Linked DNA regions of Homo sapiens: region 2 is linked to region 1. The links come from fine-mapping of genetic effects on gene expression. A gene starts in region 1. The other region holds a variant in brackets. All regions are shown on one strand. Distances are between the middles of the regions. Region 1 holds the start of ATP6V1A (ATPase H+ transporting V1 subunit A). Region 2 has its middle 51 kb from the start of MIR4446.

The links. PIP is the estimated chance that this variant, and not a neighbour inherited with it, causes the effect. A credible set is the group of variants that fine-mapping cannot tell apart.
Region 2: its variant is the best candidate, but not a certain one, in a credible set for the expression of ATP6V1A in macrophages (Nedelec 2016, PIP 0.64).

What each region holds. Positions count from the first base shown.
Region 1 is chr3:113,745,151-113,749,543 of GRCh38, forward strand. It overlaps ATP6V1A (ATPase H+ transporting V1 subunit A), which reads left to right and starts at 1,885. Exons shown (of 15, transcript NM_001690.4): 1 at 1,885-1,963. It overlaps NAA50 (N-alpha-acetyltransferase 50, NatE catalytic subunit), which reads right to left and starts at 1,099. Exons shown (of 5, transcript NM_025146.4): 1 at 792-1,099. The coding sequence starts at 799. RefSeq lists enhancers at 1-679, 283-432, 680-1,415, 1,416-2,151, 1,473-1,842 and a silencer at 1,003-1,122.
Region 2 is chr3:113,643,417-113,647,809 of GRCh38, forward strand. No RefSeq gene overlaps it. Among named protein-coding and RNA genes, the nearest start is that of MIR4446, 51 kb to the left of the region's middle. The variant GTT/G (reference allele first, on the strand shown) is at 1,889.

The DNA of each region.
Region 1 (4,393 bases):
TTAACCAGTCGATCCAAAATAATTCCTAATTTTACGTAAGAGGCAAACGGTGAAAGACCGAACATTAACTTTGCCAATCACCTGAAAGGAGCAGCGTGGTAGAACTACCCAGGACCGCCTCAGCACTCAGGGGCAATAGTGAACTACTGAAGCAACAGCTCCACCTACTGATCCACCCTATACTTCCTTAAATATGTTGGCACCCCAAGTCTACAGTGATCGCGCTCTCTCCCCCTCCTCCACTCGCTGTGACCCAACCCAAATCTAGTTGAGTCACTAGCTCTTAATACTCATCCCCGTGCTCTTTATTCCAATTTCTTCTTCCTCCAGAAGGTTCTGCACAGCTCCCAAGCGTGAATTAAACTGAAAGGTGTCAAACACCGCAGTTCCAGAGTTGAGTCTGGAGGTGGAAGACAACCAAACCACTCCACCTGGAGCTGCGGGCCGGCGTGGCTCAGCGGTCCGCTCCCGGGAAGGAGGCCCCGGGCGCTTCACAATAGCCTTTCCATGTTGCCCCACTCGGTCGCTTCTCCCCACTCAACAACCCACACTCGTCTCCGAACCGAAACCCTGAAGCCCCCCGGGTCTTGCCTCCGCTGGCCCTTCAGCCCGCCAACAGCCCGAGCCTCGCCTCCGCCCCCTCCGGGAGCCGAGGGAACTGAGAAGCAGAGAAATCTCCCTCCGCCCGTCTTCGCCCTGAATCTCTCCTCGCCTTTGCGGCTCTCCCCCTCTACATGGGCCCGGACCCTTCTACCCCACCGGCCGGGCCCTGCCCGGCTGCCCTTCCTCACCCTTTCATCTTCCCCGCCTGCTGAGGCCGTCGTTACCACCGATATCAACGCCGTCGTAGTCGCCGCCCTTAGGTCTCCGCACCCTTAGCTCGGGCCACTCAACCCCGCAAGCCGGCCTCCTAGCCTGGGCAGGGAGCTGTGCGAGCAACGAAGGCCGCGAGAGTCGAGTGAGGGCTTGAGTCTGGTGGGGGCGGGAGTGTCTCCCGCCGCCGCGCTTGTGCCGCCGCTTCTCCACACGTGCACTCGGGTCTCTCGGCTCCCTCCCGCCGCTGCCGCCAGCCAGACCCGCTGCCGCGCTGTGACCTTTCACCCCGCCCCTCGCGCGCCGGCGCGCCGCCGCCTCACGCGCAGCCGCACTGCTCGCCTCCGCGCACCCTGCCCCCTCCACTCCGGAACCTCCATCTTTCTCCTGGACTGGGCCTTCTGGGGTCATGCTCCTCCCTCCCACCCGCTTACGACACTGCTTGTGGGGCTGGCTCGGTAGGCCCTGGCGGTAAAATCCAGATTTTTCCACCCCTCCCTCTCTTGTCCCATATCCGCAAGATAGTTTTTCTCAGCCCCGTTCTTCCCAGTTTGTGGTCTCCAGAGTGACCTTCAAACGCTGTTGCCTCCTAGTAGGGTTTTATAAAGTTAGTTCTTCTAAATGTAAAGAAATCTGTGGAAAGCTCAAGTTTAAGTTAGGTGTTTTAAAACAAACGTAGTTAACAATCGGCCAGATAGATTGGCTACCCTCCAGCACGCCTCAAGTTTTAAGATCACGTGATTGGCCCAAACCTCAGAGCCTGGAATTTTACCGGCGGACTCCAGAGGGACGGAACGCCACCGCCATTTCCTGTCCCTCGATTGTGGCGTGAACGTCACTTCCTTAGCAATGCGCTTTAACTCTTGCTGTCCACATTTTCCACATTGTACTTTATAACATACTCTTTGTGAAAATTTATCTTTTATTTCTTTAATCCAAGAAAATTAATATTCAAGGGATCCGTAAAAATTCAGGCCCCCCGAGATGTAGAGCGCTGGGATGGAGGAGGCAGGGCGGAGCTCGACGTCATGTGACTGGTTGGGCCCGCCCCCCCCCCCCCCCCCAACCTGTGCAGCTGAGGACTTCCCCTCCGTGGTGACAGCCTCTGGGTCCTCGGTCGGTACAGTCTCTGCACCTCGCGCCCCAGCAGGTGAGCGGCGACCGGTAACTGGCGAGTGGTGGGGATAGAGGGGGTGGAAGGAGGCAGAGGAAGGAGAGAAGGGAGAGTGTGAACGGCGACTTTTCTGCCTGAGGCTTCCTCCCCGCTGTCACCCTGCACCGGCAAGGAGCTCATTTCTCCTTAACCCCCGCTCCCCCAAGTGTGGTCGTTCCCGCTACTTGGGGATTCAGATGTCCACCTTTCCCAGGGTTGGAAGTGAGTGCGGCCATTATGGTTCCCTACTCAGAGCCTTTGGGGCTTCGGGTAGCAGATTGTTTCAGCCATTTCACAGGGTCTGCAGTAGACATTAGGTCCCATTCCTTAAAGCCCATTCTTTGGCAAAGGTCCTCACTGTCCTTACCCTCAGCTCAGGGCTGAGGAGCGGGGAGGTAGCAAAAACCCTGGAGGCAGAGGCGTCTCCGGTGAGACAGGCTTGGGAGGGACTGTCACTGATACGGCCCTCACTGCAGAGTCACTGTGAAGCTTCCCTCCGAATGTGCTTTCTCAGTGATTCTAAGGATTTTATCTGACATACCTGCAGGGAAGGTTCCGTAGATGTTCACGTGCTTCGGATGGGACTAGAAAAGTAAAAGAAGGGCTTTTACTTTTTCTTCTCTGCAGAGAGGACAGTTGAAGGAATACTGTCTTCAAAACAGGAGGTGTTAGTAATGCGACAGTCTCGATTGAATGAGGAGGCGTTGAAAGATGGTATTGTGGTGTTGTGGTGTGCAGGAGGCCCAGGCTGGTTTAGGGAAGAGTGAGTAGGGTTCCCTGAAACCGAAATAAGAAACTGATTGGGTTGGAAATAGTTAAACCAAATTGATTTGGCCATATGCTTAAAGGTAGAATCAAGTCGAGATGTTGCTGTCTGCACATGTTTTCTGCCGTCAATCCTTCCCTTTTTGTCATTTTCCCCTAAAATACTACTGAATTGGCACTCCCAATCTATTCCTTGATCGGCTTTGTGGTAAATTTAGGTTAAGTAGCATTTGTATCCCTCTTTAGCTTTCCCCATTTGTAAAACTCCCGGTGCCCTCTTCAGATTTTGATGAATAGTATTTTGTGAAAATACAGAAATTGTTGTCCAATTGAAAATACAGGTGTTGTCCAACCCAAGTACTCCCATTCCGTCCATAATGTATTATTACCAATGTTTTGATCCCAAACAATGTGCTTTAGGGAAGAATGTTTTTCAGTTTGTGGTTAAACTCTTTTATTTATACTGCAAACTCAGAAAATTCCATGCTGCTTTTCAATTGAAGGTCTTACGAATATTACAAATTTGATTTTTAAAATTTAAATTACACCTTTCTTAATATGAAAAATTATATGCTCAGTTAAATCTTGTAGTTTTCTAACTAAGGTAATTAAAGAAGACTGCTGGAAAATGAGGAAGATGGAATCATCTTTGGTGGATGTGACTGATTTATTTTTGTTTTTCTGTGTCTTCCAAATTCTATACAATAAACGGTCTTATTTTGTTAAGGAGAATAAAAAGTTAAAATTCTACAATAGCAGCAGTTTAACAAAGTATTTTTATAGTAAGTGCAAAATACATAACCTAGCTTATTGATGCTCCTTAGTAGAAAACATAACCTCGGAGATGTTGCTTTCCCCAAGTAATGAAGATTACTACTATCTCTTGTGGATTTACCATTTTAGCATTTCGTACTTACGACCCATACTGGACAATAGACTAATGTATTGATATATTTATGTCATCATGCCTGCTGTAGATATATATATGTAGTTTTATCCATTAATTTTCTCCATAATAAGGTTCCTTGATCTCTAGAGGAGAGGGGAAGAAAAAAAGGAAGTGTTACTTCAGTGACCAGGTGACATTGCACCACGTAAGGAGAATTCCTTATGTGGTCTGGAAGTCCTAACTAGTCCTGTCTGGCTGAGACCAAAATGTGAAAGAGAAAACCAGCTAGAAGCATTGACTACTAGAGGGGAAAATGTCAGTATGAAAGTGGTTGGATGAGTCTGCAGTTTTACTTCACAATTCCCCCAGTTTTAGGGAACTCGTGAAAGCAATAACTTAGACCACTGATGAAATGTAGATTAGTAGTGGGAATTGGTGATTACATTGCTAGTAAGGTTAAATGTGAAAAAAAGCTTTGACATTATACACAGATCACACACACACACACACACACACACACACACACACACACACACGATTGGAAGCCTGGAAAACATTTCTGAGACTAGCCTTATCAGTTTATGAGTGTTACATGTAGAAATCTTAACATTTATTAGGGAATTGTGCTATAGTCCACTATTAAATAAAGCATAAGGGTTTGGTTTTATTTTAGGGCCCTTGGCACTTCTGGTTTTCTTTTCCTGAGTTCTTGTTTTCAGTGCCTTTATAGATTTTTGCCACCACTAAGAATGCTTTCTTCCCCATGGGCAGAG
Region 2 (4,393 bases), 100 kb before region 1:
TCTAGACTTTCATAGAAATGGAATCCTACAATATGTAGTAGGAAGATTTTAAATAATAGATTCCATTTCATCAGTAGGTATAAGACTATAAAGATTTTCTATTCTTCTTGTATCTATTTTGATAAGTTGCATTTTTCAATAATTTTGTCAATTTCCTCTAAGTTGTCAATATTATTGGCATAAAGTTGTAAATAATATTTTATGTTTTTAATTTCTGTATAATGTTTTGTGATGTCCTCTTTTACATTCATGATATTGATCATTCATATTTATCTTCTTTTTTCCTGGTCTTTTTTTTTCTTTTTTTGAGACAGGGTACCATTCTGTCACCCAGGCTGGAGTGCAGTTGCGCAATCTCAGCTCACTGCAATCTCCACCGCTCAGGGTCAAATGATTCTCCCACCTCAACCTCCTGGGTAGCTGCAACTACAGGAGTGCACCGCCACACCGAACTAATTTTTGTATTTTTTGTAGAGACAGGGTTTTGCCATGCTAGAATTATAGACGTGAGCCATCGCGTTTGACCTCTTTTTTCTTTTTTAGCCTTTTCTAAGTATTAACTTTTTGTCTGTTGATTTTCTCTGTCAGCTATCTGCTTTGTATTTTATTGATTTCTGCTCTATTATACTTTTCCTTTGACTTACATTGGACTTAAGTTACTATTTTTCCAGCTTCTGGAGATGGAAACTGAAATCACTGATTTTTTCAAATTCTCTTTTTTTACGTAGGCATTTAAAGCTATACATTTCCCTCAGATTAATGCTTTAGCTACATCACACAGGTCTCTCTCTCTCTCTCTCTCTCTCTCTTTCTCTCTCTCTATCTCTCTCTCTTCCCTCTTATCTCCCCCACACTCTACCCAAACATTAGAGAGACTTCTTTCAGGTGGTGGGCTACCTCACCCAGGGACTCTTCACACTTCATAAGTTTGTGTAGTCCTGAATGAGGAATAAACGTTTGAATTACTTGTGGCCTCTGGTTCTTATGTAGCATGTTTGACATCCAACAGCTTTAAAGGGGTGGGAACAGCAGACCCAGCAGCAAAGTCAGGCCATAATAATCTGATTTTACTATAGCCATATTAGCTTTCTTTTTATTAGAATTTACATATCTTACATATCTTTTTCCATCCTTTTACTTTTAATCTGTTTCCTTATAATTAAGGTGGGTTTTTTGTGCATTTTGTAAACAACATATAGTTGATTCTAATTTTTGTAATTCAGTCTACTTTTAAAATTTTAAATGGCTATTTCAATCTATAATATACTGATCTAGATGGTTGTAAGTCCATCATTTTTCTGTTATTTTTCTATTTGTTCTTTTAATTCATTTTTTCTGACTTATTTAAAAGTGTGTCCTTAAATATTTAATTATTTGATTAAATACATTGAATAATCCAGTATTTTGTTATTCCCTTTTACCTTCTCTATTTTATCTTATCTATTAGCATTTCAGTTTTGCCCTACTTTATTATTCTTTTGAAATTATAATACAGAACCTTGATTTATTACCATCTACCTTTAATTATCATTTTCTACAACTTCTCAGCAATAAAATATCCACACCAGTTTTACTTCATTTATCCTCTCACTTTGTCTTATTATTGTAATATATTTTACTTCTGCATTTGCATAAGCCTTACAAGACATTGTTATTGTTTTAAATCTCAATATTCTTTTATATTTGCCAATAATTTACCCTTTCAAGCCCTCTTCACTTCTTTCATCTGGGATCATTTTCCAGCAAACCAAATAACTTCCTTTAAAATTTCTTGTAGTGCTGGTCTACTGGTAAAACAAAATATTGCTCAATTTTTGTTTGTATGAATATGTGTTTCTCTTTTAGTTTTTAGGGAATTTTAATAATTTATAGAATTCCATGTCAGTAG[GTT/G]TTTTTTTTTTTTTTTTGTCCTTTACTTTTAAGATGCCATTCCACTGTCTCCTGGCTTCCATCATTTTTGTTATAAAGTCAGCAGTCCTATTGTTGCTTCTTTGTAGGCAATGTATCTTTATCACCCAGGTGCTTTCAAATTTTCTTTTTTTTTTTTTCTTTTTTGGACATGGAATCATACTCTGTCACCCAAGCTGGGCCAAGTAGCTGGGATTACAGGTGCCCACGACCATGCCTGGCTAATTTCTGTATTTTTAGTAGAGACAGGGTTTCACCATGTTGGCCAGGCTGGTCTCGAACTCCTGACCTCAAGTGATCTGCCTGCCTTGACCTCCCAAAGTCCTTTATCTTTAGAGTTCAGATGTCTGCTTATGATGTATAGGTGTAACTTTCTTTACATTTATCCTACTTGTGGGTTCACCAAACATCTAGAATCTATAGTTAATATATTTATCAGTTTTGAACATTTTCACCCATCAAATATTACTTCTGTCCAATTCTCTCTCCTCTCTGTTTGAAGCTCTAGTGATACATAAGTTGGATATTTTGACAGTGCCCCACACATATCTTGCATTTTGATCACTCTTTTCTATTCCTTTTTTTTTCTCTGTGCTTTGGTTTGATTTCCTATTGACTGATATGTGTACTTTACTACAAATTTATTTAAGAATTTCCTGGCTGGGTGTGGTGGCTCATGTCTGTAACCCCAGCACTTTGGGAGGCTGAGGCAGGTGGATTACGAGGTCAGGAGATCGAGACCATCCTGGCTAACATGGTGAAACCCTGTCTCTACTAAAAATACAAAAAAAATTAGCCAGGCGTGGTGGCGGGTGCCTGTAGTCCCAGCTACTCGGAAGGCTGAGGCAGGAGAATGGCATGAACCCCAGAGGCAGAGCTTGCAGTGAGCCAAGATTGCACCACTGCACTCCAGCCAGGGTGACAGAGCGAGACTCCATCTCAAAAAAAAAAAAAAAAAAAAGAATTTCCTAATTTCACTTTTCCAGCTCTAGATGTTCATTCTATTCTTTTTTTCCATTATTTGTCAGGTTTATTGAAGTATAACTTACATCCAAAATCCATCTGACAGAGTACAATTCTGTGACTTTTAACCACACAAGATATAAAACATCTCCCCCCAAAATTTGTTCCTCTTTGTAGTCAACCCTTCCACCTTCCCCCAGCAACTACTGTTTTCTGTTCCATTTCGTTTTTTATAAATTATAATTCTCTATTTTTAACGTATTTTAAAATTTTTCCATTTTAACATATTTTTATAGTTATTTTAAAGCCCTTGTCTGTGCATCTTGATTGTCTGTGGGTCTACTTATACAATCCGCTTTTCTTTCTGCTTTTTGGCCACATTTCCTAGACATTGTATGTATTTTCTGGGGATTGTATATAAAAGAACGTTAGAAATTAAGGTGGATGGTATTTTCCACCAGAGAGGGTTCATGTTTCCTTTGTTAGGCAGAGAGTATTGAGCTGTATGAGAGCTGGGATGTAGCTTTAGTTAGATTCAGTTTGCCTCTGGTTTTAAATGTCTTGAGAATGACACCTGCTCCCTCTAGCAGGACGTTGTCTCCTAAGCTTCATGAAACTATGGGTGCTTTCACTCTGCCTTTTCAGCCCAGACTCATCCAACATCCCCAGGGGAAAAAAGACCAGAGATCTCAGCTTACCTAGAAATGGAATTTCTCTGGAATTTTGTTCAGATAGTTCTCTTATATTTGTAATTGCTGTTAATTCCAAAAACTACACTATAACTTTTAGGGAGATTAAATTTAAGCATAGTGTTTGCATCTTTATGATTTATATGTCTTTCATGGCATATTAGGGCTTCTTGTATAATCAAAATGTATCTTCCATCTATAACATCTGAATGGGAGGTGGTATGCAATAGTAGGAAGTTAGCCCTTCACAGTCAGAATACCGACTTTTAATCTGAAGTCCCAAGAAGACGGGTCAAGGAAAATATTGTGAGCTTTAATTTCCTGGAGTATATGTGAGAATAAGTGGTGTCTAAGGTCCTCATTTTACCTTTTATTTTTATTTATTTGTTTTGAGACAGAGTCTTGCTCTGTCGCCCAGGCTGGAGTGCAGTGGTACAATCTTGGCTCACTGCAACTTCTGCCTCCCAAGTTCAAGCAATTCTCCTGCCTCAGTCTCCCCAGTAGCTGGGATTACAGGCATATGCCACCACACCCAATTGTATTGTAAAAATACAATAATTTTTGTATTTTTAGTAGAGATGGGGTTTCACCATGTTGGACAGGCTGATCTCGAACCCCTGACCTCAAGTGACCCACCCGCCTTAGCCTCCCGAAGTGCTGGGATTACAGGTGTGAGCTACCGTGCCTGGCCATTTTACCTTTTAAAACATTAGGATATATTTTAGACATTCATAGAACAAAGACTTCAGGCATAAATGAGATCAACATCTGAGCATCTGCTACCCAGTGCAATAGAATATAACAATACTTTTGAAGTACTCCTCCCTCCTTGA